3 separate regions of the Homo sapiens genome follow, and regions 2 and 3 are each reported to be linked to region 1. The links are microRNA targets in miRTarBase. Many come from high-throughput screens and were not tested one by one. Region 1 holds a microRNA gene; each other region holds the end of a gene's coding sequence.
The links. Region 1 holds the annotated microRNA hsa-miR-6745 (UGGGUGGAAGAAGGUCUGGUU, at 1,276-1,296, shown strand). A microRNA usually pairs through its seed, bases 2 to 8, with sites in the 3' UTR of a target mRNA and lowers its output. Matches are read on the target gene's strand: a 7mer-m8 pairs with bases 2 to 8, a 7mer-A1 pairs with bases 2 to 7 and ends in A, and an 8mer does both.

Region 1 (3,245 bases):
AATGTTGGCAATGTCGCTGTCCTCACGATGGTGGCTGAGACAAGGAGTCAGTGAGATAAGGCACATGGTCCTCATTCAATAAGCCCAGCTGACAGGGTTGTCATTCACCTTTGCACCCCATGCGCGTACCCCATGCCTCCATGCCTCACACCCAGTGAGAGGGGCTAGGCTCATTTTGGGTGGTACCCAGGCCTGGCCTAAGCCCTGTCCCTCCCTGCAGGCCCCCAGTATGGCACACTGGAGAAGGCCTGGCATGCCTTTTTCACGGCGGCTGAGCGGCTGAGCGCGCTGCACCTGGAGGTGCGGGAGAAGCTGCAAGGGCAGGACAGTGAGCGGGTGCGCGCCTGGCAGCGGGGGGCTTTCCACCGGCCTGTGCTGGGCGGCTTCCGCGAGAGCCGGGCGGCCGAGGACGGCTTCCGCAAGGCCCAGAAGCCCTGGCTGAAGAGGCTGAAGGAGGTGAGGCTGGGTGGGGGAGGTATCCGAGACAGGCTCCTTCCTGTTTGTTTGCAAGGGATCGAGGGGGCCAAGGTGTGGCATCCAGGGTCCAGAGTGGTCTCCATGCATGCCAGGTTGAGGCTTCCAAGAAAAGCTACCACGCAGCCCGGAAGGATGAGAAGACCGCCCAGACGAGGGAGAGCCACGCAAAGGCAGACAGCGCCGTCTCCCAGGAGCAGCTGCGCAAACTGCAGGAACGGGTGGAACGCTGTGCCAAGGAGGCCGAGAAGGTACAGGCCACAGGTCCCAGCCCTGGCCCCCGCCCAGGGCACGGCTTCCTGAATGAATCTTGCTCCCTGAACATCTTGTCCAGTCCCCAGCACCCTTATTACCCTATTCCTCACCTGCCACCCTCTCTCCAGATGATCATTTAAAGGAGGAACCTGACAAAAGGTGATGCTTTACTAGGGAAAGAAATGGAGTTTCAGGCACTGGGATGACTTCAGCAGTTGAGAACTTCCAGCTCTTTTCCTTGCACAGTACCCTTTGCCCGAAGTGTCCTTTCCTGCAGCTCTGGATATGCAAATCCTCCCCATCCTGAGATGCTGCAGTTTCCACCTCCTCCAGGAAGCCTTTTCTGATTTCTCCCATCCTTTCCTGTAGGTTGACCTCATTTCAATCCTCACCAGACTCTTTTATATGCTGTGCCTGATGTCACCTCCCTTGTTAGGCTGCTGGGGTCCTTGAGGGCAGGAGCTGGGTCTTGGGACTGATTGCCCCTAGTGGCTAGCCCTGGGTCTAGCAGCCTATGGCAGTGTCTGGTAAACACTGGTGGAGTCCTGGGTGGAAGAAGGTCTGGTTCTCACCAGGCCCCTCCTCTCCCACCCAGACAAAAGCTCAGTATGAGCAGACGCTGGCAGAGCTGCATCGCTACACTCCACGCTACATGGAGGACATGGAACAGGCCTTTGAGACCTGCCAGGCCGCCGAGCGCCAGCGGCTTCTTTTCTTCAAGGATATGCTGCTCACCTTACACCAGCACCTGGACCTTTCCAGCAGTGAGAAGTATGAACTGCCTGGTGGGCATGGAGATCTGGGGTAGTACTGGGTCTCCTCCATCTCCCCGAGGCCCTGGCTGGGACTGAGGGATGCAGGGTCTAGACTTCCTAGACTGAGGGGTGTGCCTTGGGTCATAGGTTCCATGAACTCCACCGTGACTTGCACCAGGGCATTGAGGCAGCCAGTGACGAAGAGGATCTGCGCTGGTGGCGCAGCACCCACGGGCCAGGCATGGCCATGAACTGGCCACAGTTCGAGGCATGTGTTCCAGGCGGGGTGGGGATGGGAGGTGGGATGGGCTCCCACTCAGCTCGGCCAGGGCTAGGGATGAAGTAAGTGAAGGTGGTTCAGATGGCCCCACCTGACTATAAGCACTGTCCCCACAGGAGTGGTCCTTGGACACACAGAGGACAATCAGCCGGAAAGAGAAGGGTGGCCGGAGCCCTGATGAGGTTACCCTGACCAGCATTGTGCCTACAAGAGATGGCACCGCACCCCCACCCCAGTCCCCGGGGTCCCCAGGGTGAGAGCCAGGAGCGCGGCTGTGGCAAAGAAACAGCTCTGCCTCCCGCCCTCCTTTCCTTTCTCCTTGGTTTCATTTCTTTCACACCTGAAATGGGTTGAAAATTGGTGCCAGGGACCTGAGGGCCTACTTAGTAGTTGTAATGATACTGGTTCTCATAGTGGTTTAGATTTGCTGGGCATTTCCCACATTCCCTCTCGTTTATGCCTTAAATCAGCTGCGTGTGGCAGGAATTGCCTCTTTGCTCACAGTCGGGCATGGCGAGGTAGAGCTAGAATCTTTAGTACCTCACCTGACTCTCCCAGGTGCCTCTGGGGGTAGGGAGGCCTTTGCCCTGATCCTGGGTGAGATCTCCAGCCCCGTGTTCCTTGCACTCTGAGCTGCTCCCTTTGCCTCCCCTCTCCAGCACGGGGCAGGATGAGGAGTGGTCAGATGAAGAGAGTCCCCGGAAGGCTGCCACCGGGGTTCGGGTGAGGGCACTCTATGACTACGCTGGCCAGGAAGCTGATGAGCTGAGCTTCCGAGCAGGTACCCTGGGACCCCTTTCCTAGCTTCAGCCTCTGCCTTATCTGCCTGAGCAGGGGTGTCAGAAAGGGAAGCCAAATACCCACTTCTTAAGGGCCAGTCCTCTGTCCCTTCAGCTGTTCCAGGTCCAGATAGCTGGTGCCTGGTGGCTGCATTCAGGGTCTGGGGTGGGGCAGCTTGCTGACCTTGACCTGCCTCTGCCTGAGCCATGTCTTTGCTAGCTGGGCTCTGGGACCACACCATCCCCCTCAGTCCTTGACCCAGTTGCAGGAACAGGGCCTGGGCCAGGGCCACTGGCAGTGACCAATCCCCTTTCCCCCAGGGGAGGAGCTGCTGAAGATGAGTGAGGAGGACGAGCAGGGCTGGTGCCAAGGCCAGTTGCAGAGTGGCCGCATTGGCCTGTACCCTGCCAACTACGTGGAGTGTGTGGGCGCCTGAGTGTCCTGACAGCCCTTCTGCAACGTTTACCCACCCTGGTTCAGAGCCCAGCTTCTCCTGGAGAGCCGGACCCTCAGGGCCCTGAACCGTCGCTCTCTGGCTGCTCCTCTGTCCCTTGAGGGAGGAAGTCCTGGGACCCAGGGAGGGGAGGGGCCTTTGTCTAGGGAAGGGACTGGTAGGGAAGGGACGAGTCTAGGCTGAGGGCAAGATGGGAGGTCAGAGGTGACAGAAGCGTTCAGGGGTGCCTGGGCCTCCCCAGGAGCTG
Region 2 (3,245 bases), not on the chromosome of region 1:
CGGCAGTGTCTGCCATGTAGCCAGTACTCACTGAATGCTGTCGACCTAAATGGATGGCCTGGGAGTCCCCACCCTCAGTCCATCACTAGTGTGTGATGCAGGAAGCTGCAGCAAGTACCATGAGGAGAATTCTCTTGGTGCCATGTAACTACTCTCAAGCCACTGGGATTTTCAGGTTTTTCACAGCAGGATAAAGCAGAAACAGATGGAGACAATCCCTTGAGCCCTCAAGGCAGAAAAGGGTACCGGAGTGAAGATGAAGGTATGCCGGGCCCTGCCTGATGGCTCAGGTCCCTCCCACAGGCAAACTGCAGCCCATTCTCACCGCCACCACAACACCAACTGTGGACGTCCTCACATATTGGAGCCATTAACCTTCCTTCCACTGTGGGCCCCTGGGAGAGGTGGTGGGCAGGTAAGCACTTGAAACTCGAACCTGCAGGTCAGTCCTCTCTCCGCCCCTTCTGCAGAAGCCTCGGAGCTGGGGCTGTGTGGGGACAGACACCACAGCCTTGGAGAGACAAGTCACATCCTCAGCTTCCCCTCAACCTGTGCAAGCACCGCGTTGCCATGGTGATGCTGCAGCCCTGAGATGCAATGGCTGCAGACAGCATGGGTGGTTCTAGGGCTCAATGCCGAGGTGGACGCTGTCTGGCCTGGGAGGCCAGGCGATTGGGTGGGCTGGGTGGGGGAGGAGAGGGAGCCCTCCTTTAGGTTCAGCTGGTAATTGCTGCTAAATGAAGGGCTGTCATTGAACCCAACATGTGCGAGGTAAGGGCCCCCGCTCTGCACCTTGTAATTACTGCACCAGACAGCAACGCTTGCTCCCTGTGCTGGGAGGCGGGCAGTGGGGGAGCAGACAGGAAGCTCTCATCCACCTGAGCCAGCGGGGCTCTGGCAGACTCCCCCTGCCGCCCAAGCAGCCTGCATCCCAAGCAGCCTCTAAGACGGAGGAGGCCCTGGCCCCCCTCCTTGGCTGGCTCTTCCCACATCATCCAGCTGGAGCACGAGCCTCCTTTAATCTTGGCCTCTGAGCTTGCGGAATCCAAGGGGGGCAGAGGTGCAGGAGCCAGATAAGAGGCCGCTTCCAAGCGCCCTTGGTGCTCCACCTCCGCCTGCTGAGTCTGTGCTGGGAATCTGAATTAGAGGCAGATCTCGGTCTGACTCCTGAGCACGGAGGCTCTGAGGGCCTCGGGCTAGTCACCGCCCCCTCCTGGCTTCAGTCTCCTGCTGCAGAAGTGGAAGTTGGACTCGAGAATTCTTGAGGGTTCTCCTGCTGGTAAACTTCAGCCAGCAAGCTGGATCCTACTTTTGTAAATGGGGTTTCACTGGGACAGCCACACCCTGGGTCTGTGTCATCTATGGCTGCTTTTGTGCTACGATGGCAGAGTAGCTGCAACAGACGCCATATGGTCCCCAAACCCCAAATATTTACTATCTGGCCCTTTACAGGAAGTTTGCAGACCCATTTTTAAAGTATTAAAGTTCTCCTGGGCTTAACCGAACGAGCTTTAGTGACTCCAACCTGATGGAAACAATTTTAGAACAAGCCCTATCCTTGTCCCCACCCATGGATACCCACTGTCCTCTTCCAAGCACCCCTTTTCTGCCGGTGTCTGGATAGCCGTGGCAGGGCAGCTGGGCTCTGGGAGCCAGTGTGGTGCAATGGCGCCACCTGCTGTGAGTGCCTAGGAGCACTTCGCCTGGAAAGCTTTGTCCCCAAGGGCCGGGGGGGTCTCCCATGGCCCGGGAACCAGTTTACAGGAGTAGACTCAGTCCACAGCACATCAGAGCTGGGGTCTTGCCCCCTCCCTTCCTCATTTGAGAGAGGCCTGCAGTCTAGAGAAGACGTGGGACTTGGCCAAGGAGGAGTGGAAAGCCCAAGCCCCAGGGGCCCATGAAGTTCCAGGAGGCTGTGTGGATGTCACGTGCAGCACGTGCACACACAGACGTACACAGACTTGGATGTGAACCTCAGCCCGGCCACTTAAGCAGCTCTTTATCTTTTCCAGGCTTTAGTCTCTTAGTTGTTAAAAGGATTAAAAGAAATGCTTATATAACATTTAATCTGTTACTAATAATGACTCAATCTTCAAAAGGACTCTGAGATAGACATTATCCCCATTTCACAGATTAAAAAACTACGGCACAGACAGGTTAGGTCATTTGCTTAGGGTCACACAGCTAGTGACAAAGCCAGTATTCAAACTAGGCTGTGAAAACATGTAAGGTCTCCAGAATGCAGTACTCAGTAAACATTCATTTATTTCCTGCCAGCAGGTGCAGTGGGGCCCCACTGGGGAGGGGACTGGTGTTCTAACAGGAGCGAGAAAATGAAGGAGGCCTGGCTTAAGACCAGACATTTGAAGAAGGCTCCAGGCAGGGAAAGGAAAGGAGAGGCCAGGCCCACACTGTCCCCTCCCTGCCCCCACGTCTCCAGCAACACAAGGCGGCCAGTGGACCGTGAACCATTTATTTCCAAACTATAAAGAAACCTGCTCTCTGAGAAAAGACACTGCCCAGGTGATGAAGCTCCAGCCCCTGGAGGTCCAAAACCCAGTCCAAACTCAGTCCCTTTAGAAAGCTGCTGTGCCTTGGAAATGAGTCTCGGCTGTCAGAGCCTGGGAAGTGGTGGGAAGAACCAGCCCACTCCCCTCTCCTGCTGCGATTCCAGCGCAGCTTGGGCCCAGCTCTGGCCAGTCCCAGGCTGGCCTGGTGCTCGCCCCTTGTGTGACCAGGCTCTGAAGGGAGGGGCAAAAGTCATGAGTCCCTGGCTTGGCCCCACCACCTGGTGACTCCCGTCCACAGCTCCCAGCTACCATGATGAGCCCTGGCGGCTTGAGCACAGTGAGTGCTGGCAGCAGGCTGGGGAGTGGCCTGCTTCTAAGCCATTTGCCCTGGCTGGTCACTGCTGCCCCTGGGCCACAAAGTACTCCTCCTCCTCATTGTCACCTTCCTCCCGCTGGCTGCTCCGGAGCAGCAGCTCCAGGTCGGGGCTGGAGCCCAGCCCCTTCAAGGCCTTGGGGCCACCATCACCTTGGGATAGAGAGAGACCACAGTTACAGGCCCAGTCGTGGTTTTCTTGGTTTGCTCTGATTTGCATGTGTGCTGAGTCACCCAGGCCCCACCCACCCACTCTGGAGATGACCCCCACATCTTCCTAGAGGAGTGACGGCAGCAGAGCCACCGGGCACACTTCCTGCATCAGAATCACTAAGAGTCACAGGGAGAAGAACAGAAAACAG
Region 3 (3,245 bases), not on the chromosome of region 1:
TGCTCACCCCTGCACCATCATCTCCCCCATGCCCTCCTCTCCTGCACTCTGCTCCAGCCACCTGGCTTCCATCAGTTCCCTGACCCTGCCCATCTCGTTCCCACCTTGGATTCTGGAGTAAGTGCTACTTCTTGACTTACCTCAGACAGGGCACTTTCCTCCTCTCTACCTGTTTCTCAGCAGTAACATGGTTTGATTATCACCAATGGAGGGTCAAGAAAGAGGACCACCCTTAGCCCTTTACCTGGCCCAGAGTGGGCACAGATGGCTACAGTTTTTCACATCACCAAGGCCATAGCATGCAGATGGCCCCTTTCCCCACCCACCTACATCACTCTCTGAGGACTAAAACTGCACCTTCCTTCTCTCTCCCTGCAGGATACTTTTGTGGAACTCTATGGGAACAATGCAGCAGCCGAGAGCCGAAAGGGCCAGGAACGCTTCAACCGCTGGTTCCTGACGGGCATGACTGTGGCCGGCGTGGTTCTGCTGGGCTCACTCTTCAGTCGGAAATGACCAGACACTGACCATCCACTCTACCCTCCCACCCCCTTCTCTGCTCCACCACATCCTCCGTCCAGCCGCCATTGCCACCAGGAGAACCACTACATGCAGCCCATGCCCACCTGCCCATCACAGGGTTGGGCCCAGATCTGGTCCCTTGCAGCTAGTTTTCTAGAATTTATCACACTTCTGTGAGACCCCCACACCTCAGTTCCCTTGGCCTCAGAATTCACAAAATTTCCACAAAATCTGTCCAAAGGAGGCTGGCAGGTATGGAAGGGTTTGTGGCTGGGGGCAGGAGGGCCCTACCTGATTGGTGCAACCCTTACCCCTTAGCCTCCCTGAAAATGTTTTTCTGCCAGGGAGCTTGAAAGTTTTCAGAACCTCTTCCCCAGAAAGGAGACTAGATTGCCTTTGTTTTGATGTTTGTGGCCTCAGAATTGATCATTTTCCCCCCACTCTCCCCACACTAACCTGGGTTCCCTTTCCTTCCATCCCTACCCCCTAAGAGCCATTTAGGGGCCACTTTTGACTAGGGATTCAGGCTGCTTGGGATAAAGATGCAAGGACCAGGACTCCCTCCTCACCTCTGGACTGGCTAGAGTCCTCACTCCCAGTCCAAATGTCCTCCAGAAGCCTCTGGCTAGAGGCCAGCCCCACCCAGGAGGGAGGGGGCTATAGCTACAGGAAGCACCCCATGCCAAAGCTAGGGTGGCCCTTGCAGTTCAGCACCACCCTAGTCCCTTCCCCTCCCTGGCTCCCATGACCATACTGAGGGACCAACTGGGCCCAAGACAGATGCCCCAGAGCTGTTTATGGCCTCAGCTGCCTCACTTCCTACAAGAGCAGCCTGTGGCATCTTTGCCTTGGGCTGCTCCTCATGGTGGGTTCAGGGGACTCAGCCCTGAGGTGAAAGGGAGCTATCAGGAACAGCTATGGGAGCCCCAGGGTCTTCCCTACCTCAGGCAGGAAGGGCAGGAAGGAGAGCCTGCTGCATGGGGTGGGGTAGGGCTGACTAGAAGGGCCAGTCCTGCCTGGCCAGGCAGATCTGTGCCCCATGCCTGTCCAGCCTGGGCAGCCAGGCTGCCAAGGCCAGAGTGGCCTGGCCAGGAGCTCTTCAGGCCTCCCTCTCTCTTCTGCTCCACCCTTGGCCTGTCTCATCCCCAGGGGTCCCAGCCACCCCGGGCTCTCTGCTGTACATATTTGAGACTAGTTTTTATTCCTTGTGAAGATGATATACTATTTTTGTTAAGCGTGTCTGTATTTATGTGTGAGGAGCTGCTGGCTTGCAGTGCGCGTGCACGTGGAGAGCTGGTGCCCGGAGATTGGACGGCCTGATGCTCCCTCCCCTGCCCTGGTCCAGGGAAGCTGGCCGAGGGTCCTGGCTCCTGAGGGGCATCTGCCCCTCCCCCAACCCCCACCCCACACTTGTTCCAGCTCTTTGAAATAGTCTGTGTGAAGGTGAAAGTGCAGTTCAGTAATAAACTGTGTTTACTCAGTGAACAAAGAGCCTGGGCTCTTGTGTGCTCCGGGATGGGGAAAGGAGGGGCCGCTGGAGAGCTGGGTACTGGTCCTGGCTCTGCTGCCCTCAGGGGAGGGCCTTGGACAAGTCCTTCCTTCCTTCTGGGCCTGAATTTATCCACCTGTACGGTGACAGGGTTTTACTGGGTACATGCTGTGTGCTGGGCACTGGGGCTGCATGTGAACAGGACAGACACAGTCTCTGCCCTCAGGAGCTGACATTCTAGTGGGAGACACAGCCACTTGGCAAGTGTTTACTGAGCTCTGCTCTACACAGACATAGTCCTGGGCACTGGGGACTTCTTCAAACAAAACCTTTGCCTTTACAAGCATTCATTCTAGTGGAAGAGACAGACATAAGCACGGCTCTAGCTGCTGTAGGGTGTGGGGGAAAGGTGTGATGCCTTTCCTCACCCATCAGAAGGTTCTGTGACTGACATTCCTATAACAAAAGAAAAACAAAGTGGCAGTTCACACCCTGTAATCTCAATACTTTGCGGGTGGGGGATGGGTTGCTTAAGGTCAGGAGTTCAAGATCAGCCTGGGCAACAAAGTGAGACCCTGTCTCTACAAAAAAATTTTTAAATTAGCCAACCCAGCAAGGCCAGTCCAGATTCTTCTTGGCCTCTGTGTAGCATTCCTTCCTCTCCTGTACAGGAGACAAGACATAGGTCAGAGTATTTATTTGTTTTTTAAGAGGGTCTTGCCCCGTCACCCAGGCTGGAATGCAGTAGTGTGATAGATAACTGCAGCTTCAAATTCCTGGGCTCAAGTGATCCTCCTGCCTCAGTCTCTTGAGCAGCTGAAATTACATGTGAGTGCCACCAAGCCTGGCTAATTTTCAAATTTTTTTTTGTAGAGATGGGGATCTTGTTATGTTGCCCAGGCTGGTCTCGAACACCTAGCCTCCAGTGATCCCCATGCCCAGCCGAGAATTTGTGGCCAGCTTCTACACAGTAGAGCAGAGGAAGGTTACAGTAATATTTCTGTGTTTTAGCGGATCACGAGGTCAGGAGATCAAGACCATCCTGGCAAACACAGTGAAACCCCGTCTCTACTAAAAATACAAAAAAAAATTAGCCGGGCGTGGTGGTGGGCGCCTGTAGTCCCAGCTACTCGGGAGGCTGAGGCAGGAGAATGGCGTGAACCCGGGAGGCGGAGCTTGCAGTGAGCCGAAATCGCGCCACTGCACTCCAGCCTGGGCGACAGAGCAAGACTCC

Region 2: miRTarBase lists SLC35H1 as a target of hsa-miR-6745. Seed matches in the 3' UTR shown: 7mer-A1 at 683-689, 7mer-A1 at 674-680 and 7mer-A1 at 614-620.
Region 3: miRTarBase lists BCL2L1 as a target of hsa-miR-6745. Seed matches in the 3' UTR shown: 7mer-A1 at 1,161-1,167 and 7mer-m8 at 1,645-1,651.

The regions. Positions count from the first base shown.
Region 1 is chr11:47,177,666-47,180,910 of GRCh38, reverse strand. MIR6745 (microRNA 6745) reads left to right here and starts at 1,174; the gene lies at 1,174-1,300. It overlaps PACSIN3 (protein kinase C and casein kinase substrate in neurons 3), which reads left to right. Exons shown (of 11, transcript NM_016223.5): 5 at 221-456; 6 at 570-725; 7 at 1,325-1,500; 8 at 1,632-1,752; 9 at 1,881-2,017; 10 at 2,424-2,545; 11 at 2,865-3,245. The coding sequence ends at 2,980. RefSeq lists enhancers at 2,905-2,954, 3,035-3,084, 2,932-3,245.
Region 2 is chr20:46,347,489-46,350,733 of GRCh38, forward strand. It overlaps SLC35H1 (solute carrier family 35 member H1), which reads right to left. Exons shown (of 10, transcript NM_015945.12): 10 at 1-3,036. The coding sequence ends at 2,906. Among named protein-coding and RNA genes, the nearest start is that of SLC35H1, 15 kb to the right of the region's middle.
Region 3 is chr20:31,663,220-31,666,464 of GRCh38, reverse strand. It overlaps BCL2L1 (BCL2 like 1), which reads left to right. Exons shown (of 3, transcript NM_138578.3): 3 at 379-2,007. The coding sequence ends at 516. Among named protein-coding and RNA genes, the nearest start is that of BCL2L1-AS1, 10 kb to the left of the region's middle. RefSeq lists enhancers at 2,345-2,639, 1,884-2,714.